3 linked regions of the Homo sapiens genome follow. The gene in region 2 interacts genetically with the main gene of each other region. Each region holds a gene or a part of one and is shown on either strand. Other genes may lie near its edges.

The links.
Region 1: changes in MFAP1 (region 2) and PITRM1 together harm fitness more than expected from each alone (negative genetic interaction), as found in Homo sapiens cells (one large-scale study listed by BioGRID).
Region 3: changes in MFAP1 (region 2) and PSMD4 together harm fitness less than expected from each alone (positive genetic interaction), as found in Homo sapiens cells (one large-scale study listed by BioGRID).

The regions. Positions count from the first base shown.
Region 1 is NC_000010.11:3,159,231-3,162,882, forward strand, and holds part of PITRM1 (presequence protease, mitochondrial isoform 2 precursor), read right to left. Parts: intron 1,101-3,652; coding exon 974-1,100; intron 707-973; coding exon 618-706; intron 1-617. UniProt on the Homo sapiens protein: Metalloendopeptidase of the mitochondrial matrix that functions in peptide cleavage and degradation rather than in protein processing. Has an ATP-independent activity. Specifically cleaves peptides in the range of 5 to 65 residues.
Region 2 is NC_000015.10:43,814,643-43,818,294, forward strand, and holds part of MFAP1 (microfibrillar-associated protein 1), read right to left. Parts: intron 2,807-3,652; coding exon 2,587-2,806; intron 433-2,586; coding exon 303-432; intron 47-302; coding exon 1-46. UniProt on the Homo sapiens protein: Involved in pre-mRNA splicing as a component of the spliceosome.
Region 3 is NC_000001.11:151,257,734-151,261,385, forward strand, and holds part of PSMD4 (26S proteasome non-ATPase regulatory subunit 4), read left to right. Parts: intron 1-3,652. UniProt on the Homo sapiens protein: Component of the 26S proteasome, a multiprotein complex involved in the ATP-dependent degradation of ubiquitinated proteins.

The sequences.
Region 1 (3,652 bases), on a different chromosome or scaffold from region 2:
ATCAAATTAACTTCACTGCACACGAAATGCTCACCATGGGACAGCCTGCCAAGCACTTTTCACACGTGATTTAAATCACAGGCACTGTGGCAGCACCATTAAGGAGACAAGGAACAAGCCAGGAGAGGTGCCAGCCACGGAGCTGCAGGCTGAGCACGGGAGGGCCCAGAGCCCAAGCCTTCCCTTCCTGAACACCCCCGGGCATGGTTCCGACCTAGTCTCGTGAAACCACCGGAATTACAAAGTTTTGTATGTGATATATTTTGCCGAGGTGCATGTTCATAGTACCATTCTCACACTCAAAGGGACCTGTGACCTCAAAATGTGAGCACCTGCTGGTCTGAGGCAGTCTTTTCTCTGTAGGAATAAAGCTTTGAAATACAATAAGTAAATTACTTTTCTTCCGGAGGGCTATCAAAAACGATTTTCCTCAAAAACCATTTTGGATGTTATTAAAAACTTCGACATTTTGTTCTCTATTCCTAAAATCCACTTAACCCCTGAATCCTAACCGTATATTAATTAACATTCAATTGTAGAACTCACTTCCGAACCTTCTAATAGGAACATTTTCCTCATGTTTTTGTCTTGTATGAGCTTTGACAGCATATACTTACTCCGGTAAGAGGAAGCTAACGCTGATGGTTGTTTGTTTAGAGGGATCTGTAGCAAATGAATCCGGGCCACATGTTATCTGGAATTCCCTCTGTAAAATGACGTGACGTTGTGAGTAGGCACAGTGTCTGACGGTTGTCAACTACTCTAGGTTATCTGGATACACGAAATGGAGCGAAACAGGCTTTCCACTAAGTTAACTTTCCTTTCAAACAAATTACCATTCTTTCAGCTTGAAAAGCTCTCCCATACTCTGTACCAAACATGACAGCATCTGAAATCCCATCATCAATACCCAGTCCAAGTCCTCATGTCAACATATTTACCAGGAAGGACACAAACACGGTGGGGCACTCACAGGCTTGTCCCAGGGTGTCTGAGCTGGCACCACGGTGCTTGGTTCAATTTTCTGGAATTTGCTCAGTGCTTCCTCGTGAATTTGTTTCAGATGCTGTTCTAATGGAAAATTACCGTACGTGAAGAACCTAAAATTTTAAGGGAATATAATTAGTCTGTTTTAGTTTAAAAGATGTGAGATCAAGTGCTGTCTGTTTCACTGAAACACAGCACAGGAGTGCCCCTTACCCAAGGTCTCGCCTTTCGGTTTCAGTCACCCTTACTCAACCAAGGTCCAAAAATATCACGGTACTTCGAGAGACCAAAATTCATGTAACTTATTACAGTATATTGTTATAATTGTTCTATTTTATTATTAGTTATTGTTGTTAACCTCTCGCTGTGCCTAATTTATAAATTCAACGTTCATTCACAGGGCATGGTGCTATTCCTGGCTTCAGGCATCTGCTGGAGTGCAGTGGCACCGTCACAGCTCACTGCAGCCTCAAGCAATCCTCCAGCCTCAGCCTCCTCAGTAGCCGGGACTACCAGGACTACACCACCACACTTGGTTTTGGTGGGGGGTTTTTTTTTTTGAGATGGAGTCTCGCCCCGTCCCCCCAGGCTGGAGTGCAATGGCACAATCTCAGCTCACTGCAACCTCCGACTCCCAGGTTTAAAAGATTCTCCTGCCTCAGCCTCCCAAGTTGCTGGGATTACAGGTGCCCACCACCATGCCCAGCTAATTTTTGTATTTTTAGTAGAGATAGGGTTTCACCATGTTGGTTAGGCTGGTCTCGAACTCCTGACCTCAGGTGATCCACCCGTCTCAGCCTCCCAAAGTGCTGGAATTACAGGCGTGAGCCACCGTGCCTGACCGGCTAATTTTTAAGTTTTAGAGGTGGGTTCTATGTTACCCATGCTGGTCTCAAACTCCTGGCCTCAAGCAATCCTCCCATCTTGGCCTCCGTAAGTGCTTGGATTTGCAGGCATGAGCCACCACACCTAGCCAAAAATCGATCTTACATTTTAAACTTCATCTAGATGTGACAAAAACCAAATGAGGTATTTGTTAAAACACTTTATAACCCTAGGTACAGTAATATAGTAATCCAACTGACAATTTCACAAAACTCAATTTTTGGCAACAAATTCAAGGTTATACACGTTTATAAAGATAACACATTTATTCAACCAGAGGAAAAAGGTTACAATGACAGAATTTATCTTTTTCTTTACTATATAGCCTGAGCTATGGTTAAGGTTTGGGAAACTAGTATCTTACAGAACCTTCAGAAATTTCTCACTCTAGAATTTAGAAACAAATTTTACACACTCGGGGTTGAGAGAATCCAGGAGCAATCACCACCCCTAGTGTTCAGATGCTGCTCTCCAAAGACCCTTCCCCATTAGCCACAGAAATCAGAGCTCCCTGGGGAAACAGACAGTTGAACCTCTGGAGCAGGGAGGGCCCGGCTGTGCGTGCATTAGGGAGGTGGGGGTGGGGGCGTAGAAACCAAAGAAGTTAGACCAAAACGGGCCCACAGCTGGGGCAAATGTGGGCATAAAAATGAATAAATTCCATCTGATCACATAATCTCAAATATATACATATACAGAAATATTTCTGTGAGGTCAGAGTGGTACTAAAAAACAAAACAAGACTGGGGAAAAAAAAAAAAAAGAAGAAAAGAAAGAACTCTCTTCTCCATGTTGGGCGCAGTGGCTCACACCTGTAATCCCAGCACTTTGGGAGGTCAAGGTGGGCAGACTGAACTCAGAAGTTCAAGACCAGCCTGGGCAACATGGCGAGACTCTGTCTCTACAAAAAAATATAAGCACTAGCTGGGCATGGTGGCGTGCGCCTGTAGTCCCAGCTACTCAGGAGGCTGAGGTGGCCCAGGAGGCTGAGGCTGCAGTAAGACAAGATCATGCCACTGTACTCCAGCCTGGGGGACAGAACCAGACCCTGTCTTTAAAAAAAAAAAAAAAAAAAAACAAGACAGCCTCTTCTGTCACCATTAAAAGTAGTTCCTGCACCACCCCTCCTCCTCAAACTGGACTTCCCAGGGAGAGCAGCCGGCCCTGCCTTTTCCACAGAACCATATTTCAAGATAACCCGATAGCCCAGCTGATGTGGAGCTCTTCTTTGAAGAAGTCCAGCAAACAAATGAAGAAGTTACAGAACTAGAAAACTTCGCAAACTCTAATAAAGTAATTGATTCAGGCAATAATCCTCAATGAATATGAAAACCATTAATAGGTTGATGAGGAACTCATTATCACAGGACACCAGAAACTCAAGCCCACCAGATGGTCTGTGGCTGAAGGGAAAAAGCAGATCTTCCCAAGGCAGTGGCTGACTCTCAGCATGGACCCCGCTGGTGTGAGATCCCCAGTGGAGGCGAGCAGACCTCACATGATGGTAGGATGTGGCCGTCTATGGAGAGCTCCCCATGAGGGACTCTGCTTACAAAGGCACAGCCTGACTCAAACTAAGTCTTTGGATCTAAGTTCCAGTGCTCAGGAAACACAGGAACATGGCACCCAACACCAGGCGGGAACAGCCAGGCCACCTGGAAAGTGAGTGCGCCAGAAAGAAACTGGGCCTGCACACTCCTCTGCCGTCCCCTAGAGGGTGCCCAGGAGAAACCCGGGCCGACCAGGTGTGACCTGTGGGACCCCGTGCAACAAACACTTT
Region 2 (3,652 bases):
TCTCCTGTGCTCGCTGACGCATCATGCCACGCCGCCGCTCTATTTCCTATCAAGTCATATATATAAGCCAGTCAGTCAAATGGCCTATGGCTTTTTGTTCGTCTCATCAAACACAACAAATTCAAATGTAAAAAGATACAACTTAGTATCATTCTATTTTTAATCCTATCCCCACAAACAAGGAACATGATCAGAGTCCTGCCAAAGCAGTGATCTCATGTTTTTAAGGCTTCAACAAATGAGCACTGGCATGAACTTTTTCTTATATCCAGAAAAAAACTTCCCATGTTCCTTTATCATACCTCATCATCAATTTCCTCCTCCTCTTCTTCACTGCTGTCTTCTCGTTCCATGCGCCAAGCATCTCCTTCTACTTCTGAGTCACTCTCTCCTACCACTTCAGGTTCCACTATTTTTCGATGTCGAGCCAATCTGAAAAACAGTATCTCCAAATGTAACACCAATGTCATAAAAATGAAGTAGCATCAACTGCATTTCCATAGCCACAGAGCACATTATGTTTGCCTTCATTAATACTGAAGTTTTTTTTTTTTTGAGGCAGGGTCTTGCTCTGTCGCCCAGGCTGCAGTGCAGTGGTGCGATCTTGGCTCACTGCCACCTCTGCCTCCCAGACTCAAGTGATCCTCCCACCTCAGCCTCCTGAGTAGCTGGGACTATAGGCGTGCCACCACACCTGGCTAATATTTGTATTTTTTGTAGAGACGGGGTTTTACCATGTTGCCCAGGCTGGTCTTGAACTCCTGGACTTAGGCAATCTGCCCACCTCAGCCTCTCAAAGTGCTGGGATTATAGGTGTGAGCCACCATGTCCATCCAGTATTAAAGTATTGAGGTGGAGGAAACTGAGGTGCAGATTAAAGAAACTAAACTAGGATGTCAGAGCGAATAGTCAAGTTGGGCCTGAAATACTAAATGTATGTTGAGGCATCCTGGGGCACCACAGCAAGCCAGCAAACTCATAGGGATGCATTGGGATTTTTTTTTTTTTGAGACAGAATCTCACTCTGTCACCCAGGCTGAAGTGCAAGGGCATGATCTTGGCTCACCACAACCTCCACCTCCCAGGTTCAAGTGATAATCCCTGCCTCAGCCTCCCGAGTAGCTGGGATTACAGGCATGCACCACCACACCCAGCTAATTTTTTTATTTTTAGTAGAGATGGAGTTTCGCCATATTGGCCAGGCTAGTCTTGAACTCCTGACCTCAGGTGATCCGCCTGCCTAGGCCTCCCAAAGTGCTGGGATTACAGGCATGAGTCACTGAGCCTGGCCTGCATTGGAATATTTTTAATAGCTCAAGATAATTCACTTTCAACATTAAGTCACACTACATTCCTTTCGAGAATATCGTGTCTTTGTGAAACTGGGTTTTGGTGGCTGCTGTGATAAAAAGTAAAAGAAAGTATAGTATGAAAATCAATATAAAACAAGACATGAAAAAGTGACAGTGCTGATTCCAAGGTTTGAAAGGCTGTCAGTGTCCAACAGGCAAACAAATTCCACTAGTAACTATGGTTATGTGAGAATGAATAAAAGTGTTTTTTCCCCCCTGGGCACTGTAATTTTATTTTTTTTTCTTTTTTCTTTTCTTTTTTTTTTTTTGAGATGGAGTCTCGCTTTGTCACCCAGGCTGGAGTGCAGTGGCGTGATCTCGGCTCACTGCAATCTCTGCCTGCCAGGTTCAAGCAATTCTCTGCCTCAGCCTCCCAAGTAGCTGGGATTACAGGTGCCCGCCACCAGGCCTGGCTAATTTTTTTGTATTTTTAGTAGAGATGGGGTTTTACCAAGTTGGCCAGGCTGGTCTTGAACTCCTGACCTCGTGATCCACCCGCCTCAGCCTCCCAAAGTGCTAGGATTACAGGCGTGAGCCACCGCACCTGGCCATGGGCACTGTTAATCTTCAAGTGGCAAAGTTATTAGGACATAAATACTTATTAAGTTACTTGGCTCTAACTACTTAATAACTAAAATAAACAGAACTGTTTTGGCCCAGGAGCTCTGTGAAAAAACTCCTGGGACAATTATGAACGGTGAAAGTTCAGGACTCCTGGCCTACTCTATAAAGTAATGTCTCCATCAATATATAACATACAAAATCCCTCACTGGGAGGCTCTCTTTCTACCATGAGACCTTTATAAGGTCTTTTCTCCTACTTCAGTGTCATTTCCCCTTATTAGCATTTAGAATAAGTAGATGTATAAAATCAATTTACCAAAGTTTATAAAACATCTTTGTGCTAAAAAGACTCCTCTCAACAGCCAACAAATGGTCTGTGTTTTCTATTCCCATAAGGAGTTGAGTAGGTCCTTTAGGCCAGAAGTAACCTGCTGTTTCCTGAAGCTGCCACTTTGTAGCTTTGGTCATGTAACTTTCTTAGCCCCTTTGTGCTCTTAGTTTCCTCCTTTTGTGAAATGGGGATAATAGCACCTATTTCATAAAGTTATTGTATGGATTACAAGAATTAGCAAATGTAATCTACTTGGTAGTACTATTCAAGTATTAGCTATTATTATTATTATTAAGCTGTAGAGGTTCATGTTCAAGTAAACACAATCACAGACATTACCTCTCTTCCACATCTTCACTAATACGGTTCTGTAAACGCCGTAGCCGGGGGTCACTGGATGAATCCTCCTCCTGTTCCTCAGGCTCTGCTTCTTGTTCTTTGGCTTTCTTAATGAACTGAAATTCTTCATCCTCCTCATCTGAGGACTCCATAGGGGCATAGTCTGGCCTTTTTCCGGACACATAACGCTTTACCTTCACTTTTTCCATTGAAATCTCACCTGGGCGAGAAAGGTAACTTATGTTTCAGTAGCCTCTTTCTCAATGTGCTTCAACCCATCACGGCCTTTGCAAATAGAGCCCTTTATTCATAGTAGACAAGAGTCTAAGCAGAAGAAGAAGAGAGCCACTACCCAACCATCTACTCTTCTAATGGTGTTTTCCTACAAAGGCCAAGTCATGAGACTGCATCCTTGTGAAAGCCAACACTGATGATAATGAGGCTTACCTTGAGTACAATGAAGTAGAGGAAGGTAGGCAGTGAAACAGTAGAAAAAAGTCCCCCCCCAAAAAGGCAGACTGCATCCATCACAAATTCATGGTATCCCACCTCAACTATACCCTTAAACAAATTATTTGTAACAGTGCCCAGCACATAGTAAGGGTAATTTCTGCAGGAACATAAAACTGCTCAGGCATTCTTGTAGTTCCCTCTGGAATTTCCATGGCAGCCTTTATAACATACTGCCACATGACTCAATATTCTAATCTTACCTATTTCTACCTTCTTTTCCTTTACCTTATGTGTTATCAAACATGCAAGAGTATGTAATCTCTTACAAATACAATTCTTTTTTTTTTTTTTTTTTTGAGACGGAGTCTCGCTCTGTCGCCCAGGCTGGAGTGCAGTGGCGTGGTCTCGGCTCACTGCAACCTCCGCCTCCCGGGTTCAAGTGATTCTTCTGCCTCAGCTTCCTGAGTAGCTGGGACTACAGACGCATGCCACCATGCCCAGCTAATTTTTTGTATTTTTAGTAGAGATGGGGTTTCACCGTATTAGCCATGATGGTCTCGATCTCCTGACCTCATGATCCGCCCACCTCAGCCTCCCAAAGTGCTGGGATTAC
Region 3 (3,652 bases), on a different chromosome or scaffold from region 2:
TTTTGTATTTTTAGTAAAGATGGGGTTTGGCCATGTGGCCAGGCTGGTCTTGAACTCCTGGCCTCAAGTGATCTGCCCACCTCAGCCTCCCAAAGTGCTGGAATTACAGGTGTGAGCCACCATGCTCGGCAGTATGGCCATTTTAATGATATTGATTCTTCCTATTCATGAGCATGAGATGTTTTTCCACTTGTTTATATCTTCTTTGATTTATTTGAGCGGTATTTTGTAATTCTCATTGTAGAGCTCTTTCATCTCCCTGGTTAGTTGTATTCCTAGGTTTGTTTGTCTATTTGTTTGTTTTTTTGAGATGGAGTCTCGCTTTTGTTGCCCAGGCTGGAGTGCAGTGGCGCCATCTCGGCTCACTGCAACCTCCACCTCCCGGGTTCAAATGATTCTCCTGTCTCAGCCTCCCGAGTAGCTGGGATTACAGGTGCGTGCCACCATGCCCGGGTAATTTTTTTCTGTATTTTTAGTAGAGATGAGGTTTCATCATATTGGTCAGGCTGGTCTCGAACACTTGACCTCAGGTGATCCACCAGCCTCAGCCTCCCAAAGTGCTGAGATTACAGGCATGAGCCACAACACCCAGCCAAGGTATTTTATTCTTTTTGTGGCAGTATGCACATAGTTCTTGGCCCCATGTAGTGCATCATGGGGAACCTGCTGTTGATGTGACTGCCTTGCACATGTGCCATTGTATTACCCTTTTCGAGTGTTTTTTTTTTTTTTTTTTTTTTTGGGGGAGACAGGGTCTCATTCTGTCACCCAGGCTGGAGTGCAGTAGTGTGATCTTGGCTCACTGCAGCCTCGACCTCCGGGGCTCAAGTGATCCTCCTGCCTCAGCCTCCTGAATAGCTGGGACTACAGGCACTTACCACCATGCCCAGCTATTTTTTGTATTTTTTGTAGAGATGGGGTTTTGTCATATTGATTAGGCTGGTCTCGAACTCTTGGGCTCAAGAGAGCCTCCCTCCTTGGACTCCCTAAGTGCTGGGATTACAGGCATGAACCATCACACCCAGCCTGTATTCTCTTTTAAAATAAAGGTTTTGGCGGTAATCCCAGCTACTTAGGAGGCTGAGGCAGGAGAAGGGGTTAAGCCCAGGAGTTTGAGGTTACAGTGAGCTATGATTTCACCACTGGCCTCCAGCCTGGGTGACAGAGCAAGATCCTGTCTCAAAAAAATATGTGAAATGGCCAGGTGCGGTGGCTTACACCTGTAATCCCAGCACTTTGAGAGGTTGAGGTGGGCGGATCATCAGAGGTCAGGAGCTCAAGACCAACCTGGCCAACATAGTGAAACCCCGTCTCTACTAAAAATACAAAAATTAGCTGGCATGGTGGTGCACGCCTGTGGTCCCAGCTACCCGGGAAGCTGAAGTGGGAAGATCTATTGAGCCTGGGAGGTTGAGGCTACAGTGAGCTGTGACTGCGCTTGAACCTGTGCCTGCGCTTGAACCTGTGCCTGAATACTACCCTAGACAGGTTGAGTATTCCCTATCTGAAATGGCTAGGACCATAAGTGTTTCAGATTTTGGATTTTTGTCAGATTTTAGAATATGTACATTATACTTAACCAGCGGAGTATCCCTAATCTGGAAGTCTGAAGTGCTCCAGTGATAATTTCCTTTGAACATCATGTCAGCACTCAAAACTCAAAAACTTTCTGATTTGGGGCATTTCGGATCTCAAGAGTTTCTGATTAAGTGTACTTAACCTATATATTCCCTTTTCTGTTAATACTTGTTTTCCAGTACCTTCTTAATTACTTCTCTTTACCATTTTTGGTTTATTGCCAAACAAAGCATACTAAAGAAAAAAAAATTGCCCCAGGCTCACATTTTGCTTGCCAATAGAAATGAGATGTCTTGGCTAGGTGCCGTGGCTCACACCTGTAATCCCAGCACTTTGAGAGGCCAAGGCAGGAGGACTACATGAGTCTAGGAGTTTGTGACTAGCCTGGGCAACAAAGTGAGACTCCATCTCTATAAAATAAAAAATAAATAAAAAATGTGGTTTTTTTTGGTAGAGACTGGGTCTTCCTGTGTTGCCCAGGCTGTTCTCCAACTCCTGGGCTCAAGCGATTCTCCCTTCTCGGCCTCCCAAAGTGCTGGGATTACAGACGTGAGCCACCATGCCCAGCCTAAAAAATAGATAAAATTCTAAAAAGAAGAAATGAGGGCCAAGTGTGGTGGCTCATGCCTGTAATCCCAGCACTTTGGTAGATTGAGGTGGGTGGATCACCTGAGGTTGGGAGTTTGAGACCAACCTGACCAACATGGAGGAACCCCGTCTCTACTAAAAATACAAAATTAGCCGGGTATGGTGGTTGCATGCCTGTTATCCCAGCTACTTAGGAGGCTGAGGGAGGAGAATTGCTTGAACCTGGTAGGCGGAGGTTGCGGTGAGCCGAGATCGAGCCATTGCACTCCAGCCTGGGCAACAAGAGCGAAACTCTGTCTCAAAAAAAAAAAAAAGAAAGAAATGAGGTATCTCATCTAAGGCACTGCTTCCGTCCATTAGCACAGGTAGAACCTTAACTATTAGAGCTCTCAGGGACCTCAGAGGTCATCAAGAATTGATCCTTACAGGAGCTTATATAACTGCATCACTTACCTGCCTTCTTCTGGTCTTTGGGAAACTCGAGATTATATTTCACATTAGCTGGATACTTTTAGATCATGAAAAGTTGCAGGGATCTAAGAGGTGAGACTTCAGATCCACAAAACCTCATTTTTACCGTTCAGTTCAGCTGTCAAAGCTGTTAAGCATTTAATGAGATGATTGCATTGTACTTTTCTGCACTCAGTGCTGCCAAGTGTGTGTTATTTTATAGACCTCTTTTTTTTGAGGCAGTGGCACGATCTTGGCTCAATGCAGCCTCCACCTCTCAGGTTCAGGTGATTCTCCTGCCTCAGCCACCCGAATAGCTGGGATTACAGGTGCCTGCCACCACGCCCGGCTAACTTTTATATTTTTTAGTAGAGATAGGGTTTCACCATGTTTGCCAGGCTGGTCTCAAACTCCTGAGCTCAAGAGATCTGCCCACCTCGGCCCCCCAAAGTGCTGGGATTACAGTTGTGAGCCACCATGCCTGGCCCTATTTTATAGATTTTTTTTTTTTTTTTTGATGGAGTCTCACTCTGTCACCCAGGCTGGAGTGCAGTGGCGTGATCTTGACTCACTGCAACCTCGGCCTCCCGGGTTCAAGCAATTCTCCTGCCTCAACCTCCTGAGTAGCTAGGACTACAAGTGTGCGCCACCATACCTGGCTAATTATTGTATTTTTAGTAGAGACGGGGTTTCACAATGTTAGCCAACACTGGTCTCTAACTCCTGACTTCAGGTGATACACCCGCCTCCACCTCCCAAAGTGCTGGGATGCACTTGGGAGGCATAAGTCACTGTGCCCAGCCTATTTTATAGATTTTTTTTTTCTTTTTCTTTTTTTTTTTTTTTTTTTGAGACGAAGTTTTGCTCTTGTTGCCCAGGCTGGAGTACAATGGTGTGATCACCACAACCTCCGTCTCCTGGGTTCAGGCGATTCTTCTGCCTCAGCCTCCCGAGTAGCTGGGATTACAGGCATGTGCCACCACGCCCAGCTAATTTTCTACTTTTAGTAGAGACAGGGTTTCTCCATGTTGGTCAG